3 separate regions of the Homo sapiens genome follow, and regions 1 and 3 are each linked to region 2. Evidence: fine-mapped expression QTL. A gene starts in region 2. Each other region holds a variant in brackets. All regions are shown on one strand. Distances are from middle to middle. Region 1 overlaps R3HDM2 (R3H domain containing 2). Region 2 holds the start of R3HDM2 (R3H domain containing 2). Region 3 overlaps R3HDM2 (R3H domain containing 2).

The links. PIP is the estimated chance that this variant, and not a neighbour inherited with it, causes the effect.
Region 1: its variant is the best candidate, but not a certain one, in a credible set for the expression of R3HDM2 in whole blood (TOPMed, PIP 0.82).
Region 3: its variant is the best candidate, but not a certain one, in a credible set for the expression of R3HDM2 in whole blood (TOPMed, PIP 0.82).

What each region holds. Positions count from the first base shown.
Region 1 is chr12:57,371,084-57,379,266 of GRCh38, forward strand. All of the region lies in intron 2 of R3HDM2 (R3H domain containing 2), which reads right to left. Among named protein-coding and RNA genes, the nearest start is that of R3HDM2, 56 kb to the right of the region's middle. RefSeq lists a silencer at 1,243-1,537. The variant T/C (reference allele first, on the strand shown) is at 4,265.
Region 2 is chr12:57,426,626-57,434,808 of GRCh38, forward strand. It overlaps R3HDM2 (R3H domain containing 2), which reads right to left and starts at 4,418. Exons shown (of 24, transcript NM_001394031.1): 1 at 4,095-4,418. It overlaps R3HDM2-DT (R3HDM2 divergent transcript), which reads left to right and starts at 4,491. Exons shown (of 2, transcript NR_185976.1): 1 at 4,491-4,805; 2 at 7,078-7,310. It overlaps INHBC (inhibin subunit beta C), which reads left to right and starts at 8,159. Exons shown (of 2, transcript NM_005538.4): 1 at 8,159-8,183. RefSeq lists an enhancer at 3,560-3,669 and a silencer at 3,850-4,319.
Region 3 is chr12:57,384,316-57,392,498 of GRCh38, forward strand. All of the region lies in intron 2 of R3HDM2 (R3H domain containing 2), which reads right to left. Among named protein-coding and RNA genes, the nearest start is that of R3HDM2, 43 kb to the right of the region's middle. The variant A/T (reference allele first, on the strand shown) is at 3,651.

The DNA.
Region 1 (8,183 bases), 56 kb before region 2:
TTTTTTTTTTTTTTTTTTTTTTTTTTTTTTAAGATACACACACAAACTCAGAGACACCCAACAAACTAGGGCAGGCAAACAAAGTTTTACCCTCTTCAGTGCCTAAATGATTAACAGCTACCCTTTTTCTGCCTACAGTAACATAAAAGGGTTAACTGTTTAAAGAAGTAAAGAACACAGGAGTAGCTGTGTATTCATATATCAAAAAGAAAAAAGCAGTGATATCAAGGGAGAGAAAAATATTTTCATGAAAGACAGGATGCAGAAAAAAATAGAACGAAAACAAAAAAGAAACATCAGTTCTGATGTCCTGCAAAACAGAAAAGGTAAGAAATATCATTCAAGATAACTGCCTTGTGCTTAGGTTTTGTCATTCTTCTTCCAAGCCTATAGTCTGTAGTAAGATAAGAAGACAGGCAATGAGAAGAAATACTCCCAAACAAAACAAGCCAATCCCCCACAACCCAAACCCCCAAAACAGAGAATTTCAAGATATCTCCAAATATCCAGGTCATATTTATAACTAAAATGAATCTTGATTTAACATTGTGCTTCTCATAGGGATTTCTCTTTCACCTTTCCTAAATGAGTAACATCAATGCAACAACTATAAAAACAAAAAGTAAATATCATCAGAAAAGCCAGTATAACATAATATCTTTGAGCATAGTCTAAGGGAAGGATATGGCATAGCTTCTCTCTGTCCCACTGCTGCTGAAACAAAATAACAGTAATCCAAAAGTCCGAATGATTTTACAACATATCATAGATTGTCCTTTTTTGTTGTTGTTGTTTAATTTTGAGACGGAGTTTCGCTCTTGTTGCCCAGGCTGGAGTGCAATGGTGCGGTCTCGGCTCACTATAACCTCCGCCTCCCGGGTTCAAGCGATTCTCCTGCCTCAGCCTCCCAAGTAGGTGGGATTGCAGGCATGCACCAACACACCGGGCTAATTTTTTATTTTTAGTAGAGATGAGGTTTCTCCACATTGGTCAGGCTGGTCTTGAACTCCTGACCTCAGGTGATCCACCCACCTTGGACTCTCAAAGTGCTGGGATTACAGGTGTGAGCCACTGCACCCAGCCAACTGTGGCCTGTTCTTATATTATCTCAAAGCCTTCCCAGGATGGACCAGTGGGATTTAACATGAACCAGGTATGTCATCCAAGTTGAAGACAGACACGTGGGTCCTAATGAGCAGTGGTGAAAAAACATAGTGCTCCATTCAGCTCCCAACAATGATAAATAATTCAGGAAAAGAACTGCCGCAATACAGAGCACAGCAGCAGGATTTAAAAATAGACCACAGGCTAGAAAGCCTTGGGGCGGGGGTGTGGGGGGAATCAGGAGTCACAGAGAAAATGGATTTCTGTCAACAAATTCCCAAGCTCTTTGCAATAAAGGGTGCTGCTGAAATTGGCACGCAAACCAAATGCCAAACTCTAATGTACTTCCTCAAAAATCAAATATTTTTCAGGAATTTGGCAAATCTGATAACAAGAGAGCTAATAAACAATGGTACTATTTGGAAAGAGCAGTTATGATAGAGAAAGCAAATCTAAATGACATAGGAAGATATGTTTTTTAAAAAATAAGGGATTAAAACTCGATTTTCCACACCACCAAATTCTAGGTCTAACATCAATTTAGACTTCTACTAATTATGCCTCTAGTACTGAGATAGCACTCAATATTTTGCTATTCCTTTTTCCACCTCTAATAGATCCTACAAGTCAACACATGCAAACACAAGAGTCACACCAATCAATAAAAAGGGTAGCTTGAAAACTGAACAAAATCCATGATTATGGTCTTCCCAGATTTAAATTAAACTCCAACTCTGGCCAAGCATGGGGGCTTGTGCCTGTAATCCCAGCCCTTTGGCAGGAGGCCAAAGTGGGAGGATCGCTTGAGGCCAGGAGATTGATACTAGCCTGGGCAATGTAGTGAGACCCCCATCTCTACAAAAAATTAGCTGGACATGGTGGCACGTGCCTGTAGTCCTAGCTACTTGGGAGGATGAGGTGAGAGAATCACTTGAGCCAAGGAGTTTGAGGCTGCAGTAAGCTATGACTGTGCTGCTGCACTTCAACCTGGATGACAAAGCAAGACTCTGTCTCTAAAAACAGTAATAACAAGCCGGGCGCGGTGGCTCACGCCTGTAATCTCAGCACTTTGGGAGGCCAATGCAGGTGGATCACGAGGTCAGGAGATTGAGATCTTCCTGGCTAGCATGGTGAAACCCCGTCTCTACTAAAAATACAAAAAATTAGCCGGGCGTGGTGGCGGGCGCCTGTAGTACCAGCTACTAAGGAGGCTGAGGCAGGAGAATGGCATGACCCCAGAGGCGGAGCTTGCAGTGAGCCAAGATCGCGCCACTGCACTCCAGCCTGGGTGACAGAGCAAGACTCCGTCTCACAAAAAAAAATGTAATAATAATAATAGAGGCTGGGCACAGTGGCTCACACCTGTAATCCCAGCACTTTGGGAGGCCGAGGTGGGCAGATCACCTGAGGTCGGGAGTTTGAGACCAGCCTGAACAACATGGAGACATCCTGTCTCTACTAAAAATACAAACTTAGCGGGGGGTGGTGGCGCATGCCTATTTGTAATCCCAGCTACTTGGAAGGCTAAGGCAAAAGAATCACTTGAACCCAGGAGGCAGAGGTTGGGGTGAGCTGAGATCGCACCATTGCACTCCAGTCTGGGCAACAAGAGCAAAACTCCTTCTCAAAAATAAATAAATAAATAAATAATAATAATAATAAGGGCGTGGTGGCTCATGCCTGCAATCCTAGCACTTTGGGAGGCCGAGGTGGGCAGATCATCTGAGGTCAGGACTTCAGGACCAGCCTGGCCAACATGGTGAAACCCCGCCTCTACTAAAAACACAAAAATCAGCTGGGGGTGGTGACGGGCACCTGTAATCCCAGCTACTCGGGAGGCTAAGGTAGGAGAATTGCTTGAACCCAGGAGACAGAGGTTGCAGTGAGATGAGATCGCACCACTGCACTCCAGCCTGGGTGCCAGAGCAAGACTCTGTCTCAAAACAAAACAAAAAAATATGGTCCCTGCCCACTCTTAACAATGAAAATACGATGTAATAATGAGCTGCAGTCCCAGCTACTCAGAAGGCTGAGGTGGGAGAATCACCTGAGGCTGGGGAGGTCGAGATTACAGGGACCCGTGATCGTGCCACTGTACTCCAGCCTGGGCAATGGGAGTGAGACCATCTCAAAAAAAAGTATGAAGTCTGATGAATAGTGTGTGGCTGGACAGTCAATCATAAAACTGTTATCTTGAGAATGACAAGAATGACCAGACCAGGCCGGGCGTGGTGGCTCACGTCTGTAATCCCAGCACTTTGGGAGGTCAAGGCAGCCTGAGGTCAGGAGTTCGAGACCAGCCTGGCCAACATGGTAAAACCCTGTCTCTACTAAAAATACAAAAAATTAGCCAGGCATGGTGGCAGGTATCTGTAATCCCAGCTACTTGGGAGGCTGAGGCAGGAGAATTACTTGAACCCAGGAGGCGGAGGTTGCAGTGAGCCAAGATCACGCCATTGCACCCCAGCCTGGGCAAAAAGAGAGAAATTCTATCTTAAAAAAAAAAAAAAAAAAAAAAAAAAAAGGCCGGGCGCGGTGGCTCACGCCTGTAATACTAGCACTTTGAGAGGCTGAGGCAGGCAGATCACGAGGTCAGGAGATCAAGATCATCCTGGCTAACACGGTGAAACCCCGTCTCTACTAAAAATACAAAAAAAAAATAGTCGGGCGTGGTGGCGGGCGCCTGTAGTCCCAGCTACTCTGGAGGCTGAGGCAGGAGAATGGCGTGAACCCGGGAGGCGGAGCTTGCAGTGAGCCGAGATCATGCCACTGCACTCCAGCCTGGGTGACAGAGCAAGACTCCATCTCAAAAAAAAAATAAATAAATAAATAAATAAAATTGAAGTGACATTCACATAAAATTAACCATTTAAAAAAAAAAATGACCAGACCAGACATATTCCACAAACTCAACAATTTATGTGACGAAGAAATAATATTCTGCATCCAAAACTGCATTTCTCTGCAGCCATCAAAATATACACCTCTCAAAAATTAAAAATAAATAAAAATATACACCTCTCTTCATAAGTCTGAGATTAATTTCAGACAACTGGAAATTTTAGGACAATATAAGACAATTTTTATGTCTAATCTCCCTATAAAAGTATAATATAGAATATAAAACCATAATCTGATCCTTTTATACATTACTTTATCC[T/C]AAGTAAGCAAACAAATGGTATCGAAAAAAATTCTTGTTCAGTATAAACTGCAAACCAACATATAATCAGATGAATATCAGATGAATATGCTCCTGCCTCACCTATTTTTAGAGGAAAAAAATGGCTATATCTCTTCATAACTGTGCCATTCAACTTACACTGTGCAAAGACCAGAACAGAATGCACTTGGAAGAAGCAGCGTTTTTTCAATTCTTAAATTCTCTAGACTCTATGAGTAAATACTAAACTGTATTTTCAAAGGAGAAACAGGCTGGTTCTTTCAAAATATGGTCCATTTAAAGTACTTATCCAGGTCAGATCAGCTGCTTTTTTTTTTTTTTTTGAGACGGAGTCTTGCTCTGTCGCCAGGCTGGAGTGCAGCGGTGCAATCTCGGCTCACTACAACCTCTGACTCCCTGGTTCAAGCAATTCTCCCGCCTCAGCCTCCCGAGTAGCTGGGATTACAGGCCCACACCACCATGTGCAGCTAATATTTTGTATTTTTAGTAGAGACAGGGTTTCACTATGTTAGCCAGGATGGTCTCGATCTCCTGACCTCGTGATCCACCCACCTCGGCCTCCCAAAGTGCTGGGATTACAGGCGTGAGCCACCATGCCCAGCCAGATCAGCTGCTTTCTAACCCCTCTCCATCAACCAGAGTAAGCCATCATCTCATTCTGTAAACCCAGGCTTTCTTACTATTAACAACAGACAGCATGGTCAAAGGGGCCCAGTTTTGAGTTCTGGCACTCTTGGTCTTGGACCTATTCTGGGTCCTTCATTGAAGATAGAACCACTATGACCCTCCTCTGACTTGCCCATGCCCTCAGGGCAAGATGTCCATGGGACCAGAGGACATACCTACCTGAAGAGCCTTACTCGACTACTCTCAGCTATGCTCCAGATCCCAGGTTTTCCTGCCTAAGCAGCCCCAAACCCCAATCAGGGCCTTCAGTGGATTTCTTCTCATCTCAAACTTTGTCCTTCCATGGACAATAACCTTCTGTTATACACGTTCCATTGCCTGAATGGTGGGCAAGGGACAAACAACGGGAAGGGTACAGATGGAGACTAGGCTTGTAGGATATCCCTGAACCATCCTATTCTGTCTCAAAAAATAATTTCCCCTCAAAGTTCTAACAGTTTTTTAATTTTGATTTACTGGGTGAGGTGGCACATGCCTGTGGTCCCAGCTACTCAGGAAGATGAGGCAGGAGGTTCACTTGAAGCCAGAAGTTCAAGGCTGTAGTGAAATAAAATTATTAAGTTCCTTTTTTAAAAATCTTGATTTATAACTACTAAATATTTAGAAATATGGGGACGGGGGCAGTGGCTCACACCTATACTCCCAACACTTTGGGAGGCTGAGGCAGGCGGATCACCTGAGGTCAGGAGTTTGACACCAGCCTGGCCAACATGACGAAGTCCCATCTCTACTAAAAAATACAAAAATTAGCCAGGTGTGGTGGCAAGTGCCTGTAATCCCAGCTACTTGGGAGGCTGAGACAGAAGAATCACTTGAACTCAGGAGGCGGCGGTTGCAATGAGCCGAGATGACACCACTGCACTCTAGCCTGGGCAAAAGAATGAGACTCAGTAAAAAAAATAAAAAATAAAAAAAAATTTTAAAAAAGGGGCAACCCACTTGGGTCCCCTTCCATGCTGTGGAAGCTTTGTTTTTTCGCTCTTTGCAATAAATCTTGCTGCTGCTCACTCCTTGGGTCCACGCTAAATAAATAAATAAATAAATAAATAAAAGAGACTTGGTCTCAGAAAAAAAAAAAAAATTAAAAATATGGAATGTGGGCTTCCATTCATGCTGTTGCCCAGGGACTGAAGTTGTTAGTAAAACCATGCCCCAAAAACTTAAACCAGTAACTAACAGAAAGTCTTGAGTTTGCAAGATAGCAGATAAGAAACAACTTTCTGAAACACTGAAACTCCTTCTGCTTGTAAGATAACAAAACTGGCTGAAATCAGTTGCAACCAATATAGCCAACTAGAGTTCACTCTGAAGGAGCGTCATCACAGCCTGAATTGCCACCACATGCTTCATATTAACTCCTCCCAAATTTGAACATGGGACCCATGAGGAGTCATGAAGAGATAACTGGGTACTGCCAAGGACTTTCTAGACCTCCCCTTTCCTTCCACCAATCACCTAGTAATCCCAGAATCTACCCGCTAAACCTGTTCTAATAAAATTACTGCACCAGGAGACAGATTTGAGCTTGACTCCTGTGAGTCAACTGGCAATATAAGCTTTTCTTTTCTCAAAAACTCAGTGTCATAGTATTGGCTTGTAGTGCATTGGGCAGCAAGCCCCTTTTGCTTGATAACATTAGGACCATGCCTACCTAGCCCTATCACATACCAGGCTTTGTGATCCTAGATAAGTAATCACCTCTCTAAGCCTCTCTTTATCTCAATGTAAAATAAGCAAGTTGAAACCTTTCGGCCAGGGGCAGTGGCTCACACCTGTAATCTCAGAAGTTTGGGAGGCCGAGGTGGGCGGATTGCTTGAGGTCAGGAGTTTGAGACCAGCCTGACCAACGTGGTAAAACCCCATCTCTACTAAAAATACAAAAATTAGCCAGGTGTGGTGGTGCATGCCTGTAATCCCAGCTACGCGGGAGGCTGAAGGGAGGCTGAAGCAAGAGAATCTCTTGAACCCAGGAGGCGGAGGTTAAAGTGAGCTGAGATCATGCCACTGCACTCCAGCCTGGGTAACAGAGCAAGACACTGTCTCAACAAAAAACAAACAAACAAAAAACACCTTTCATAGGATACTGTGATTATATAATTTTCAAAGTAATTTTGCAGGGTGTCTGGCCCACAGCAAATCTGTAACAAAATGAAACTATTATTACATGCTATGTCATCACTCTGTTTCCTATCATGGGCAAAAAGGGGACATGAAAGGGCAAAAAAGTAGAGCCAATTTCAGATAAACTATAATCAAGAGAGCTGTTTGTGGGTCTCATTTTAAGGATTTGCTTTCATGGATTCCATCTTGGTCTGTCTGGTGGTATTATTTTTCTTTTTTTTGAAACAGGGTCTTGCTCTGTTGTCCAGGCTGGTGTGCAGTGGTGCACTCAAGATTCACTGCAGCCTTAACCCCAGGCTCAAGTGATCCTCCCACCTCAGCCTCCCTAGTAGCTGAGACTACAGGCATATGCCACCACGACTGGCTAATTTTTTGTGTATTTTGTAGAGACAGCGTTTTGCCATGTTGCCCAGGCTGGTCTCAAACTCCTGGACTCAAGACATCCTTCTGCTTTGGCCTCCCAAAGTGCTGCAATTACAGGTCACTGCACCCAGCCTATTTTTCATTCTTCTCACTAAAGTCTAAGTTCTGATTCAGCAATTCTACTTCTGGGTATATATTCAAAAGAATTGAAAATAGGGTCTCAAACAGATATTTGTACATCCATGTTCATAGCAGCACTATTCATAATAGCTACATGGTAGAAGCAAGTGTTTATCAACAAATGAATGGATTTGTTCCAAATGTGGTATATACATGCAACAGAATAATATTCAGCCTTAAAAAGGAAATTCTGACATATGCTGCAACATGGATAACCTTGACGACACGCTAAAGCCAGTCACAAAACGACAAATTCTGTATAATTCCACTTATATGAGGTAGTTAGAATATTCAAAATCATAGAAGACGGAAAGTAGAATGGTACTTGCCAGGGCTGGGGGAAAGGGGGAGAGGAGAATGGGGAATTATTGTTTTATGAGTACAAAATTTCTCAGTTTTACAAAATGAAAATAATTATGGAGAAGGATTGGTGGTGATGGCTGCATGACATCATAAATGTATTTAATACCACTGAACTGTTAAGAGGGTTAATTCTGTTAAAATGGTAAATTTTATGTTATGGTTAAGATGGCAAATTCTGTTATGT
Region 2 (8,183 bases):
GAGCATGAAGTAGGTAAAAATTCTAGCCACAATAAATCTGAGATAAGACTACCAATACCAAAGACTTCCACACTCCATCCTCTTCTCTGCCCTCAGAGTATTTTCATTCAATGGCCCCAAAGCACGAGATGTTTGTCCAAAGAGAAACATCCCCAGAAAAAACATCTCAACATCTCTCAATGAGTACCTTAGAAAACCAGGTTTTCCTAGTGAAAACCCATCCCACCCTTCCAAGGACAACTAATCACGATGAAAAATTCATGGAAAGAGTTCAAGGAAAAAACTCCTCCTTACCTACTCAGTCAATAAATCTGTTGTGCACTTTACTGAACATCAAGTGCTGTGCTAAGTGCTGAGGATACGGAAATTAATAAAACAAAAATGTGGCTGGGCACAGAGGCTCACGCCTACAATCCCAGCACTTTGGGAGGCCGAGGCAGGAGGATCACCAGGTCAGGAGTTCAAGACCAGCCTGACCAACACGGTGAAACACCATCTCTACTAAAAATACAAAAATTAGTTGGACGTGGTGGCGCGTGCCTGTAATCCTAGCTACTCAGGAGGCTGAGGCAGGACAATCACTTGAACCCGGGAGGTGGAGGTTGCAGTGAGCTGACATCGTGCCACTGCACTCCAGCCTGGGCGACAGACAGAGGTTCTGTCTCAAAAAAAATAAATAAATAATAATAAAATAAAATAAATAAAACAAAAATGCCTGCTCTCCTGAAGCTTTTTTTTTTTTGAGACAAAGTCTCAGTCTGTTGCCCAGGCTGGAGTGCAGTGGCACGATCTCAGCTCACTGCAACCTCAGCCTCCCAGGTTCAAGCCACTCTCCTGCCTCAGCCTCCCAAGTAGCTGGGACTACAGGCGTGTACCACCACACCCAGCTAATTTTTGTATTTTTAGTAGAGATGGGGTTTCACCATGTTGGCCAGGCTGGTCTCGAACTTCTAACCTCTGGTGATGCCCCGTCCTTGGCCTCCCAAAGTGCTGGGACTATAGGTGTGAGCCACTGCGCCTGGCCCTGAAGCTTTCTACTAGGGGAGATTAAAATATATAATACGTTATAGGTTGATAAGGGTTAAGGCAGAAAATAAAGCAGAAAAGGGGGATAGAGAGTTATGTAAATGTGTATGCAGGAGGGGCTTTGCCATCCAGATAGCCAAGGGAATATCAGTGTTAAGAGTGACATTTGGGCCAGGCGCAGTGGCTCACACCTGTAATCCCTACACTTTGGGATTACACTTTGGGAGGTGGAGGTGGGTGGATCACTTAGGGTCAGGAGTTGAAGACCAGCCTGGCCAACATATAGTGAAACCCTGTGTGTACTAAAAATACAAAAAAATTAGCCAGGCATGGTGGCAGGCACCTGTAATCCCAGCTACTCAGGGGGCTGAGGCAGGAGAATCGCTTGAACCCAGGAGGTAGAGGTTGCAGTGAGCCGAGATCATGCCACTGCACTCCAGCCTGGGTGACAGAGCGAGACTCCATCTCAAAAAAAAAAAAGAGTGAAATTTGAGTAAAGACCTGAAGGAGATGAGGGGACAGACAGGCTATGCTCTTACACAGCTTTGTAAGAGAAAAGTAACTCAGGAAGAGGAAACAAGAGCATAGACCCTGAGGCAGAAGTGTGCCTAGTGTGCTCAAGGAACAGCCAGAGGCCAGTGTGCATGTTAGGGGAAAAGGGTGCCACAGATCTAGAGCTTTAAAGCTAAGATTGGTTTGGCTGGGCGCGGTGGCTCATGCCTGTAATCCCAGCACTTTGGGAGGCCGAGGTGGGCAGATCACGAGGTCAGGAGATCGAGACCATCCTGGCTAACACAGTGAAACCCGTCTCTACTAAAAATACAAAACATTAGCCGGGTATGGTGGGGGGTGTGGTGGGGGGCGTGGTGGGGGGGCACCTGTAGTCCCAGCTACCCAGGAGGCTGAGGCAGGAGAATGGCATTTACCCAGGAGACAGAGCTTGCAGTGAGCCGAGATTGCACCACTGCGCTCCACCCTGGGTGACATAGCGAGAAAGAACAACAACAACAAAAAGTAACATTGGTTTTTATTTTGAAAGAGAAAGGAAGCCATCTCCTGTCTTAATTTTCCATTAAAAAATATTAGGCATGCTATTATTTTTTTTTTTTTTTTGAGACAGTCTCTCGCTCTGTTGCCTAGGCTGGAGTACAGTGGCACGATCTTGGCTTACTGCAAAATCCGCCTCCTGGGTTCAAATGATTCTCCCACCTCAGCCTGCCAAGAAGCTGAGATTACAGGTGCCTGCCACCACGCCTGGCTACTTTTTGTATTTTTAGTAGAGACGGGGTTCCACCATGTTGGCCAGGCTGGTCTCAAACTCCTGACCTCAGGTGATCCACCTGCCTTCGCCTCCCAAAGTGCTGCGATTACAGCATGAGCCACCGTGCCCGGCCAGTCAGGCATGCTATTTTTATTTGTCAAATTTTTTTAAAACTTTACATTGTGAAGCTCTGCCAAGAGCAATGGCTCACGCCTGTAATCCCAGTGCTTTTGGGAGTCTGAGGCCAGAGGATCACTTGAGGCCAGGAGTTCAAAACCAGCCTGGGCAACATAGCAAGATCCCATCCCTACGAAAAAAAAATTGTGAAGCTCTACTAATCATATAATGGACACAAAGACAAATGGAACTTCAACTCTGAAATTTAACTTGTTAGGAGTTCATCAGGCCTTCAAGAAAAAAGTTATCTTTTCTCTCAACTCTCTGGAGAACAGCAACAGGGTAAGAAAAATACAACTAAAAACTGAACTGAATTAATCTAACCGGCCACTTTTCACCACTATTTAAACTTTTTGTCTTTCCCGGCGCGGTGGCTCAAGCCTACCACTTTGGGAGGCCAAGGCAGGTGGATCACTTGAGCCCAGGAGTTCCAGACCAGCCTGGGCAGCAAGGTGAAACCCGTCTCTACAAAAATCAGCCAGGAGTGGTGGCTCATGCCTGTACTCCCAGCTACTTGGGGGACTGAGGTAGGAGGACGGCTTGAGGCCAGGAGGCAGAGGTTGCATTGAGCCGAAAAGGAACCACTACACTCCATTCTGGGTGACAGACTGAGACCCTGTCTCAAAAAACAAAATACAACCTTTTGTCTTGATACCCCAGCAACAAAAAGGGGGGCGGGGGTGGGGGGGGAATATTGGTGGAACAACAACAAAAAAAAGCATTAGGAAGAAGAGCCACAAATAATTCAACTGCAAATCTATCTAAAAATACAAGAAAATGCTAGGAATTTGTGATATTCCTGAAGTGAAACCTGTCACTTTCCTCCTTCCTTGAGTCTCCACGTGGCTTACGCATATCAGACAGGACTCAGGCTTCTCAATCTTAGTTATCTATTTGAACAACATTATGTACAAGGATATTCATCCAACTGGGATCTGAATTCAAACTTTTCCACTTTTCTTTCTTCCGTTTTAACGCAGTTCTGGGATTGTTATTCGGTCATTTCTCATCATTATCCAATGACAATTCACTCTAAGTCAGTATTCCTGGTAGTTCCGAGACTTAATGGCCACAAATGTTGAAAAATGTTAGCTCTACGGGAAAACGAATCGAAGCGTTTTCAGGGGCTCGAGTAGTTATGAGCTTAGTGTAGGCCCAAGTTTTAAGCTATAGAAACATCTCCCTGTATGTGCCAACTCAAATCCCCGTCCCTGTAAGAAACCTGGACACCAGCATGATTTTAAACACTTCTACACCTCTCCGTCCTATTTTTCCATGCTCCACGCTCGAAGGAAAACCGCCACCCAAGAAACACACGGAGCTAGCCACCCCGAAGCACTGGAAGGGCGCAATAGTTTTTAGGTCACCCCGCAAAGGCCACAGGTGGCGCCACCCCCCTGCCCCCGCACCGCCGCCCTCCGCCCCGCGCCCCCAGCTTCTCTCCAGCAGCGCACACTTGGAGCAGTCCTTCCCGCGGCCATCCGACCCTGACCCATCGTCCCCGGGACCGGCTGCCGGGCGCGAGGAACCCAGGCCGCGGGGCCTCCTCGCGCCCGCCCGTGCGGCCGCCACGCCCCCTCCCCACAGGCCGTCCGGGCCGCCCGCCCCCTCGGCCGGGAGGTGGCCTCACCTCGCACGGGCCTTGGCGGGGAGGGCGCCCACGTCTCCGCCCGCCGCCCGGGCCCACGGCCGCTCGGCTGCGGCTCGGCCCCGACGGCCGGCGGCGGCGCGCTTCTGGGGGCGGGCTTTTCTCGGCCGGGGCTTCCCCGGGGCCGAGGGCTGGGAAGCAGGGGGGACTGGGACGGGGGAGGGGAAAGGGGCTTGGGAAGGAGGGGGGAGAGGGGAAGAAAAGGGGGGAACCAAACCCGGAAAGGGAGAAAAGGGGGGAGGGGAAAATCAGAAGGGGAAGAAAAGCCCAGAGTCCGCCCCCCGCTGCGGCTGCGCGCTACGTCACTACGTCCGGCGTTGTCGTCACCTCGTCCTGCGTTCCGGCCGTCCCTGCTTCCTGGCTTCCCGCGTGCCCCTCAGCAGCCCTGCGGGGCCTACCGCCTGCCGCACGCACTCCCGCCGGCGCGCGCGCACTCGCACTCGCTCGCTCGCCCTCTCCTCCTTCCGCGTTACCTGTGTCAGGACACCAATCCGGAGTCACTGGGAGCCTCGGTCCTCCTTAAACCCTTCAAGTCTGTCAGATAGAATACCCTGGATTTCAATATAATACTAATAGTGATCATTCTAAAGTAATTTCCATTTACAGAGCACTTTCACTTAGGGCAGTAACTCCTGTACCAAAAGAACGTACACTCGGTATTTGTTGCATACGTGGATAACTATAGTTGAGCAGGTAAATGTCCATTTTACGTAAAGATGAAAAAAACCGACCTAGGAGGAACTCAGTCTGTCCTATTAAGATCACATTCTTACCATCATCCCCTCTCTAAGATACAGTTCTCAAAAATCGTCTTAAATGTCCAGCCTCCCCCGTTTTGTCCATTCTAGGCAGAATCAATTTAGTTATTGATTATGTGTGTGTGGATAATTTACTGACCAAACTCCCTCAAAGAAGCAATGTAGTCTTTTGTAGAATTCGACCATTAAATATTTACCTTGTGACAGAAACTGCGGTAGGCAAAAAAAGTCAAATAATTATAGTACAATTTAAGTGCTATAATAGAAAGGTTTAAATGTGCTATGGAAACACAAGGAACAGCAATTCGTTCTTAGCGGTAAAAGAGATTGAGTAAGTTACAGAGAAACTACAGGTGAAACTCCAGCTAATCTTGAGACTATAAATAGTTCACTAGAGAGGTAAGAATGGAGATTCCAGCAAAGTCATAGAGGCATGAAGTTCATCTTTCCTTCAAGGATGAGCAAGTTCCAGGTTGGTTGGCGTTTTTTGTTTGTTTGTTTGTTTGTTTTATTTATTTTGAGATGGGGTCTCGCTTTGTCACCCAGGCAACTAGATTGCAGTGGTGCAATGTCGGTTCACTACAACCTTCACCTCTCAGGTTCAAGTGATTCTCCTGCCTCAGCGTCCGGAGTAGCTGGGACTACAGGCACGCACCATCACACCCGGCTATTTTTTGTATTTTTAGTAGAGACGGGGTTTTGCCATGTTGGCCAGGCTAATCTCGAACTCCTGGCCTCAGGTGATCCACCCGCCTCGGCCTTCCAAAGTTCTGGGATTACAGGTGTGAGCCACCTTGCCCAGCCCTCTCTCCTGGTCATCACTGCCTCCTGCCCCCAAATTCTCTCAACCCTCTAGAGAACAACAACGGGGGAAGAAAAATACAACTGAACTGAACTGATCTAACCTGCCACTTTTCACCACGATTTAAACTTTTTGTCTTGGCCGGGCGCAGTGGCTCACACCTAGCACTTTGGGAGGCCAAGGCAGGTGGATCATTTGAGCTCAGGAGTTCCAGACCAGGCAGTGATGACCAGTAGGAAATAATAGCTAATATTTGTATTATGTGTATGTAAGTACAATATAAAATGTGTAGCATTCTACATCTATTGTTAGTATCAAATCCTCAATACAATAGGTACTATTATTATACCTGTTTTATAGATGAGGAAACCTGAGGCACAATAATGAAACCAAAGTTCCAGATTTTTTTTTATTTTTTTTGAGACGGAGTCTTGCTCTGTCGCCCAGGCTGGAGTGCAGTGGCATGATCTCAGCTCACTGCAACCTCCACCTCCCGGGTTCAAGTGATTCTCCTGCCTCAGCCTCTCAGGTAGCTGGGACTACAGGCATGTGCCACCACGCCCGGCTTATTTTTATTTTATTTATTTTTTTATTTTTCTTTGGTATTTTTAGTACAGATGGGGTATCACCATGCTGGCCAGGCTCGTCTCGAACTCCTGACCTCAAGTGAACTGCCCACTTCAGCCTCCCAAAGTGCTGGAATTACAGACGTGAGCCATCACGCCCAGCCTACAAGCACATTTTTAAGGGCAAAAAAGAAGGAGACAGGGAGTAGACTGATACAAAGTTGTCGGGTATTCTTGTTGGTTTACAGAAATAACATTGATTAGTGATTGGCTATAGATTGTTAAGCTATAGGATCTAGGTTATAGTGTCCAGTGCAGCATTATTATGTTAATTTATAGTTACTTGTGGCAATAGCAAGCAATTTCAAGAGATGAATACATAGCTCAAAAGCAGGAAGTAGGACATGATTGCCCTCTCATTTTATTTATTTATTTTTTATTTATTTTTTTGAGACAGGCTCTCACTCTATTTCCCAGGCAGGTGTGCAGCAGTACAATTACAGCTCACTGCACCTTCAACCTCCTGGGCTCAAATGATCCTCCAGTCTCAGCCTCCTGAGTAGCTGGGACTACAGGAACACACCACCACTCCCAGCTTTTTTTAAATTTTATTTTATTTATTTATTTTTTATTTTAGTATGGATAGGGTCTGGCTATGTTGCCCAGTCTGGTCTTGAACTCGTGAGTTCAAATGATTTGCCCGCTTTGGCCTCCTAAAGTGCTGGGATTATAGGCTTGAGCCGCCATGCCTGGTCTGCTGTCTCATTTTAATGTCTCTCTGAGCCTGATAATCTTCAAAGACTTGCATTTCCCAGATTAAAATTGTTTTATTTTCTCAGTGCCATGACACAGAATGAAAGCCTGAAATGTTTCTGAGACAAGTGCAAGAACTGAAGAACAACAACCAAGAATACCTGGATTTAAAACCTATACTCCTGGCCAGGCACGGTGGCTCACGCCTGTAATCCCAGCATGTTGGGAGGCCGAGGCGGGTGGATCACAAGGTCAGGAGTTCAAGACCAGCCTGAACAACATGGTGAAACCCCGTCTCTACTAAAAATACAAAAATTAACCAGGCATGGTGGCACGCACCTGTAATCCCAGCTACTTAGGAGGCTGAGGCAGGAGAACTGCTAGAACCCGGGAGGCAGAGGTTGCAGTGAGCTGAAATTATGCCACTGCACTCCAGCCTGGGCGACAGAGTGAGACGCCATCTCAAAAGAAAAAAAAAAAAAGGGAATCTCAAAACTTCTTTTCCAAGACAGAAAAAAACCCCAAAGGGTGAGCAAATCTGGAACTCAAGCCCTTTCCCCACCTTAGGAGTTCCCTCTGAGAGCATCAAAGACATGGCTAGAACACTGTGCCTCCCTTCCCTTAACCTTCAGACTTCATAGTTTTGAGACCTCTTGGGCAAAACTCAACCAGGGCTAACAAATAAGGCTGGATTGAGAACCCCAGGAGGGAGGATGGAGGGATGGGGATGGGCTTTGAGAAACACCAGGCAAAAAAGAATGCAACTCTCAATTGTTCATGCGTGACAGTGAGCTAAAGTGCCTTGCCAATGACCCCTTCTTGTTTGAGAGTCTCCCTTTAACATTCTTTCCCAAAACCTGTGATCTGTCCCTTTCCACCATCCCCAGGATTCCCAGCAAGGGTAGAGATCTGAGGAGGAATTTAATCTCTCACCTTTGAACCCCAGGCCTGGCAGCTCACATGGATAACAACTGTCTCCCAACATTGGCCCAGGGACGTGTCTTTCCCTAAACAAACCAACCTCTCCTCACATCCCCCACTCTGTACTTTCACTGACTATGCGTTGGCAGATTCTGCCAAGTTCTACCTGTAACTGGCTTCATTTTCAAGTCAGACGTTTGGCTGCTGCTCTGTCCCCTGCAACAAGGAGCCATGCCAGCTGGACACACACTTCTTCCAGGGCCTCTGGCAG
Region 3 (8,183 bases), 42 kb before region 2:
TGCACTCCAGCCTGGGTGACAGAGCAAGACTCTGTCTCAAAAAAAAAAAAAGAAAAGAAAAGTAGGGAAACAAGCCTATGTTCCTTGAGATTATTTTAGAGGTTTAACAAGAGATCAATCATCTCTCTCAGTTTCCTCATCTATAAAACAGAATAATAAGAGTACTTCTTTTGGAAGGCTGTATAAAAAAAATAACATATGTAAAGTACATAGAAAAGTGCAAACTCAACACTGTTAATACAGATGTACAGGTCACCATGATTTTTTCTCAGAGCTGCAAGTATTGCATAAAGAAAGCTATAACATAAAGGTATCCATGGAGAAATGAATGGCTTGAGAAGAATCTAGAGAGGTTAGTAGAAACAGGATTATAAAAAGTCTTACATACTAATAAAGCTGTAAGAAACTCATAAAGGACTTTTGGAAAGGAGTTACATCATCAGATTTCTATTTTAGAAAGATTACTTTTTCTACAATGTGAATGGCTTAGAAAAAAAAGAATAGAGGCAAAAACACTAGATAGAAAAAAATGTGAAAAGTACTCTGGCCCAGGCCAGGCGTGGTCGCTCACACGTGTAATGCCAGCACTTTGGGAGGCCGAGGCGGGTGGATCACGAGGTCAGGAGTTCAAGACCAGCCTGGCCAAAACGGTGAAACCCCATCTCTACTAAAAATACTAAAATTAGCTGGACGTTGTGGCAGGTGCCTGTAATCCCAGCTACTCAGGAGGCTGAGGCAGAGAACTGCTTGAACCCAGGAGGTGGAGGTTGCAGTGAGCAGATATCACAAGATCGAGCCACTGCACTCCAGCCTGGGCAACAGAGTGAGACTCCATCTCAAACAAACAAACAAATAAGAAGAAAAGTACTCTGGCTGTAGAATGAGGGGACTCTGACTTAAGATACATTGAGGAGATAAAAACTTAAAGACTTTTTTTTTTTTTTTGAGACGGAGTCTCACTCTGTCGCCCAGGCTGGAGTGCAATGGCGCAATCTGGCTCACTGCAAGCTCTACCTCCTGGGTTCACGCCATTCTCCTGTCTCAGCCTCCCAAGTAGCTGGGACTTACAGGCGCCTGCCACCACGCCCAGCTAATTTTTTGTATTTTTAGTAGAGAGGGGGTTTCACCGTGTTAGCCAGAATGGTCTCGATCTCCTGACCTCGCGATCCGCCCACCTCAGCCTCCCAAAGTGCTGGGATTACAGGCATGAGCCACCATGCCTGGCCTAACTTTAAGACTTTTATCTGGGGGTGGTGGCACACACCTGTGGTCCCAGCTAGTCGGGAGGCTGAGATGGGAAGATCACTTGATCCTGAGAGGTCGAGGCTGCAGTGAGCCCTGCACTCCAGCCTGGGCAACACAGCAGGACCCCGTCTTCAAAAAAAAAAAAAGACTTAGTAACATATGAGATGTGTGTAATGACTGGGAGAGAAGACATCTAAGAAGACACCTGGGGGACTAGACAGAAGAGCAGCTCTCAAAGTGTGGCCTGGAACCCCTGGGAATCCCCAAGACTTTCATGGAAACTACATGGTCAAAACCATTTTCAGAGTAGTAGTAAAACCCTGTTTGTCTTTTTCACTGTCATGCTCTCATGGGTGTATGGTAGCATTTTCCAGAAGATATATGAAATGGAATATTGTAACTAATTTGAATGAAAATGCAGTTATGAGAATCCAGCTGTCTTCTATTAGTACCATCATTAAAAATAATTACAAAAATAAAAAAAATGCCACATTTCTCACCACATTTTGTTGCTGCTGTTTTGTAAAAAGTTATTTTTCATACAAATTTATGTTAACATGCAATAGGTTTGAGAGGTGACAGCGTGCTGGCAGCGCTCGCAGCCCTCCCTCGCTCTGGGGGCCTCCTCTGCCTGGGCTCCCACTTTGGCGGCACTTGAGGAGCCCTTCAGCCCACCGCTGCACTGTGGGAGCTCCTTCCTGGGCTCGCCGAGGCGGGAGCCGGCTCCCTCAGCTTGCGGGGAGGTGTGGACGGAGAGGCACGGGCGGGAACCGAGGCTGCCCATGGCGCTTGCGGGCCAGCACGAGTTCCGGGTGGGAGTGGGCTCGGCAGGCTCCGCACTCGGAGAGGCCAGCCGGCCCCGCCCACCAGGGCAGTGAGGGGCTTAGCACCTGGGCAAGCAGCTGCTGTGCTCGACTTCTTGCCGGGCCTTAGCTGCCTCCCCTCGGGGCAGGGCTTGGGACCTGCAGCCCGCCATGCCTGAGCCTCCCCCCGCTTCTGTGGGCTCCTGCGCAGCCTGAGCCTCCCTGACGAGCGCCGCCCCCTGCTCCACCGCGCCCAGTCCCACGGACAGCCTAAGGGCTGAGCAGTGCAGGCCCACTGTGCAGGACTCGCAGGCAGCTCCACCTGCAGCCCCAGTGCAGGATCCACTGGGTGAAGCCAGCTGGGCTCCTAAGTCTGGTGGGGACTTGGAGAATCTTTATGTCTAGCTAAGGGATTGTAAATACACCAATCAGCACTCTGTATCTAGCTCAAGGTTTGTAAACTCACCAATCAGCACCCTGTGTCTAGCTCAGGGTTTGTGAATGCACCAATTGGCACTTGGTATCTAGTTAATCTGGTGGGGACTTGGAGAACCTTTATGTCTAGCTAAGGAGTTGTGAATGCACCTTTGGCACTCTGTATCTAGCTCAAGGTTTGTAAATACACCAATCAACACTCTGTATCTAGCTAATCTAGTGGGCTGCATATAGCTAATCTAGTGGGGACGTGGAGAACTTTTGTGTCTAGCTCAGGGACTGTAAATGCACCAATCAGCTCTCTGTAAAATGGACCAATCAGCAGGATATGGGTGGGGTCAGATAAGAGAATAAAAGCAGGCTGCCCGAGCCACCAGTGGCAACCGGCTGGGGTCCCCTTCCACACTGTGGAAGCTTTGTTCTTTCGCTCTTTGCAATAAATCTTGCTGCTGCTCACTCTTTGGGTCCACACTGCCTTTATGAGCTGTAACACTCACCGCAAAGGTCTGTAGCTTCACTCCTGAAGCCAGCGAGACCACGAACCCACCAGAAGGAAGAAACTCCGAACACATCCGAGCATCAGAAGGAACAAACTCCAGACACACCGCCTTTAAGAACTGTGACACTCACCGCAAGGGTCCGTGGCTTCATTCTTGAAGTCAGTGAGACCAAGAACCCACCAATTCTGGACAAAGGTTTACTGTCACTTTTAGTAAATTTATACTTTTTAAAAATAGGTATTTTAAATTTTCTCAGTTTTAACTTCTAATCATTAATATTTAATGTTATAACTCACAAAGACAAAAGCTCTCTGGAGATTTCAATCATTTTTAAGAGTGTTAAGGGGTTCTGATACCAGAAAGTTTGAGAACCACTGAGTGAATAATATTTCTACTCACTGAAATATGAATACTGAAGAAGAAACCAGTTTGGAAAGAAAAAGTTCTGTTTCATACATAATAAATATGTTATGCCCATGGGCGGACAAAAAGTGTCCAATGGATAGTTACACCAGTGGAACTGGAAATCTAGAACACCAAACTGAGAGTAGTTGAAACCTTGGATTTTAAACAGGGTCACAGAGGGAGAAAACACAATGAAAACAGTGGCAGAGTAACCAAAGAAAAGGCTAGAAGAGAAGCAGGGGCCTCAAGACAGACAAAAAAA[A/T]TTTTTTTTTTTTAAAAAGACAAAGTCTTGCTCTTGTCCCCCAGGTGGGAGTGCAATGGCGGGATATCAGCTCACTGCAAACTCCGCCTCCCAGGTTCAAGCGATTCTCTTGCCTCAGCCTCCCAACTAGCTGGGATTACAGGCGCCTGCCACCATGCCTGGCTAATTTTTGTATTTTTAGTAGAGATGGGGTTTCACCATGTTGGCCAGGCTGACCTGGAACTCATGACCTCAGGTGATCTGCCCGCCTCAGCCTCCCAAAGTGCTGGGATTACAGGCGTGAGCCACCACACCTGGCCAAGACACACCAATATTTAAAGGGATAAAGAAGAGGAGTATTTTGAGTGGCAACTATCTGGGGCCAGTGTCATGCAGGCAGTAAAAAGAATTTACCAAGACAGTTGTAGGTAAAGAAAGGCATATTTATTTATTAGCGAAAGTAGGAAAATATGTTGTAAGAAAGCAAACGACAAGTCAGCAAGAGAAGAACTGGCTGCCAGGAGACACAAAGGCTTGCTTGCTGGGGATTCTATAAGATGGTGCTTGTGCTGTGTGCTGAAGAGGGTTAATGATAACACCTTGTGCAGTACTGACAATGTCAAGGTTGCAGTGAGCTAACTTGCATTTTTCTATCAGCTGAGGGTCTGGTGATAGCTGGGTGCAGGAAGATTATGAGTTATTTGCGCAGGAGGGCTATGTGTCCTGGACCACGAAGGCAGTTACAGCTTATCTGCTTTCTCTTTTTGCATTCCCTTGGTCCCGCCAGCCTGACTCCTTTTCCCGAATTAGGACTCCACATGGAAGAGGCTTCCATATGGAGGGGGAAAAAGTTATAAAAATGAGAAATAAAATAAAATGTAAGAGGACATCACTAGCTATAAATTAAAGAAAAAAAAGATGGTCAGGGCTTTGAAGAAAAGAAAAAACAGCAAAAACCGAATCCATAACTAGTAGTGGGAGATACAGAATGAAAAAATGAAATCCAGCATTAACTCCAAAATCTGATTTTCACCAAATATTTCAATCCTTTCTCATATAATACTTTTTTTCTTATCAGGGTTACTAATAAACAACAGAATGGTTTTGGACTCATCTCCTTTGCCTTCTTGGTCTACCCTCCAGAGGAAATGCAAACAAGAAGGAAAATAACCAAAAGGATAGAGATGGGAGGAAAAGGAAAGATCCCCTGAAACGTTAGGAGGGAAGTGACTGATGCAGTGACTCAATGAAGAGACATTCGTTCATGCAGCAAATAACTACTGAGTAACCACTTGCAAAGCACCATGATAGGCAATGTTGAAAATAGCTGACTAATATACAAAGCTATACCCAGGTTCATCAGCAGAAGCAACAGGCTGGAAATACAAATAAAACTCTACTGGTAAGACGAGCACAGAGGCAGCTCTATTCCAAAGGTGGTTCTAGGAGATGACTCCAAGAGCTCAAAGTCATCTAATTATTGAAAAGTGGCCTAATTCCAGAAAATAACTCCAAAGGAATATTTCAAATGTTTGATAGCCTGTGGCAATGCCATGTCTTGCTGAGTTTTTTACACAGATAAGCACACCTTGGAATACACAGATAAATCTTTAAGAAATCTTAGTATATACACTACATTGTCAAACTCTGATCTAAGCTCTAAAACAAATAATAAAGCTCAGAGAGAATTACCTAGCCAGATGCACTTAGGTTGGAAAGGCTGCTTTAATTGGTCAACCTACCCTTTAAATGTAGAAGTTGTGATTTTATAAACATGACCATATTTTTTAACAAAGAATAAAAAGATTAGAATAGAAAAAAAGCATATGATAACACCCAGAATTCAGCATTATATCCAAAAAGAACCCTGAACAAGAAAGGATATATTATCATGCACAAGCTGTCACTAAAATATTTTCACACCATCATCTTGTGCTATGGTAGCTGACCTACTTCTAGCTCTAAGCCTGTATCTGATTGATTTGCAATTTTCTGGAATTATGTGGGCTTCAAGAGACACTGAACAACATCAGAAGTATCTTTTTTGTCTGAGCTCTATTTGGCTGCCGTTCCCTTTTCAAGAATTCGAGAAACAAAGGAATTATTGGATAGTAGTCAGTAACAATAGGTGTAATAATGCTAATGAAAACTTTACAGGTTGGGGGAGGGGATTCCACTTCTGGCTAACAGAGTAACAAGAATCAGAATACCTTCTAGGAGAAATAACTAAAAAAAAAAAAGAAAGAAAGAAAAAAAGAAAAAATATATGAAACAATAGTTTTTAAGTTACTGGGCATCAGGCAGTGAACGATAGTGATTCCTTGGGAGATGGGAAACAAGTGAGGTGAGTCCTGTGATTATCCAGGCTTAATCCCTAAACAGTGTTTCCAAGAAATGTAACAGGGAAGGAGAGTCTAAGGGGAACAAGGGCAGAGTCCAGCATGCTCCCTGAGTGAAGAAAATAGGACTGAGGCCAAATGCAGTGGCTCACATCTGAAATCCCAGCACTTTGGGAGGCTGAGACAGGAAGATCACTGGAGCTCAGGAGTTCAAGACCAGCTTGGCAACATAGTGAGACCCCATCTTTACCAAAAATAAAATAATTAGCCAAGCAAGGCGGAATGTACCAGTGGTCCCAGCACTTTGGGAGGCTGAGGCAAGAGGATCACTTGAGCCCAGGAGTTCGAGGCTGCAGTGAGCCATGATCACACTGCTGCCCTCCAGCCTTGATGACAGAGTGAAATCCGTCTCAAAAAAAAAGGAAGAAAGAAATATGTAATTACCAGGCTGGGTGAGGTGGCTCACGCCTGCAATCCCAGCACTTTGGGAGGTGAGGCGGGTGGATTACCTGAGGTCAGGAGTCTGAGACCAGCCTGGCCAACATGGTGAAACCCTGTCTCTACTAAAAATACAGGAAATTAGCCAGGTGTGGTGGTGGTTGCCTGTGATCCCAGCTTTTCAGGAGCCTGAGACAGAAGAATCACTTGAACCCGGGAAGCAGAGGTTGCAGTGAGCCGAGATCATGCCACTGCACTCCAGCCTGGGCAACAACAACAAAACTCCGTCTCAAATAAAAAAAAAAAAAAGAAAGAAAGAAAAGAAATATCTAATTACCATACCCCCAGCAATTAGACTCTTAAGCATTTATCACAGACAAATAAAAACTAATAATTATACAAAAATCTGGACATGAATATTCATAGTAGATTTATATGCAATAGATGAAAATTGGAACCAACACAGAAGTCCTTCAACAGGTGAATGATTAAGCAAATGCGTACAGCTACACCATGGAACGCTACTCAGCAATCAAAAGGAACAAATTATTGATACATCTAACAACTTTGATGAATCTCCAGATAATTAAGCTAAGTGGGGCAGGGGTTGGGGTAAGCCAATCTCAAAAAGAAAAAAAGCCAACTGTATATACTATAGGATTCCATCTGTGTAATGTTTTTGAAATAACAATATTATATTAGTGGTTTCCAGGGAATGGGATGGAGGGAGGCAGGTGTAGTTATAAAAGGGCAACAAGAAAGATCCTTGTGGGGATGGAACTGTTTTGCATCTTCACAGTGATGGTAGATACACAAATTCACACATTATGAAATTCAAACACCGACATACACAAATACAAGTACATGTAAAACTGGACAAAGCTGAATAAACTCTGTAAATTTTACCAATGGCTACTTCCTAACTTTAATATTGTACTATAGTTATGTGATGTTACCAATGGAAGACACTGAGTAAAAGGACATCATAGGATATTCCTATACTCTTTTTGCAACTTCCTATAAATCTATACTTGTTTCACAATGAAAAGTTAAAATAAATAACTGATAAATGATACAAATTATAGAATCTGTAAAGACACTTGAAAAGTTATTACCACTATATTCCACATGTGCAAAGAGCTATAGTAAAAAGTGAGCGGCTGGGCCCAGTGGCTCAAGCCTGTAATCCCAGCACTGTGGGAGGCTGAGGCGGGTGGATTACCTGAGGTCAGGAGTTGGAGACCAGCCTGGCCAACATGGCAAAATCCTGTCTCTACTAAAAATACAAAAAATTAGCCAGGTGTGGTGGTGGGCACCTGTAATCCCAGCAATTTGGGAGGCCAAGGCAGGAGAATCACTTCAACCTGGGAGGTGGAGGTTGCAGTGAGCCGAGATCGTGCAACTCCTATGCTCAAGTGATCCTCCTACCTCAGGCCTCCCAAGTAGCTGAGACTACAGGCTTCATGAACCACCACACCCAGCTAAGGGAAAATCTTAAAAGCAGCCAGAGCAAAAGGACACAAATAACAGCGGTTTCCAACCTTTTTGGCACCAAGGACCAGTTTTGTTGAAGACAAATTTTCCATGGACAGTAAGGCGATGGTTTCAGGATGAAACTGTTCCACCTCAGATCATCAGGCATTAGATTTGCCTAAGGACTATACAACCTAGATCACTCACATGCACAGTTCACAATAGAGTTCACACTCCTATGAGAATCTAATGCCACTGCTGATCTGACAGGAGGCTGAGTTCAGGGGGTAATGTTCACTCGCCT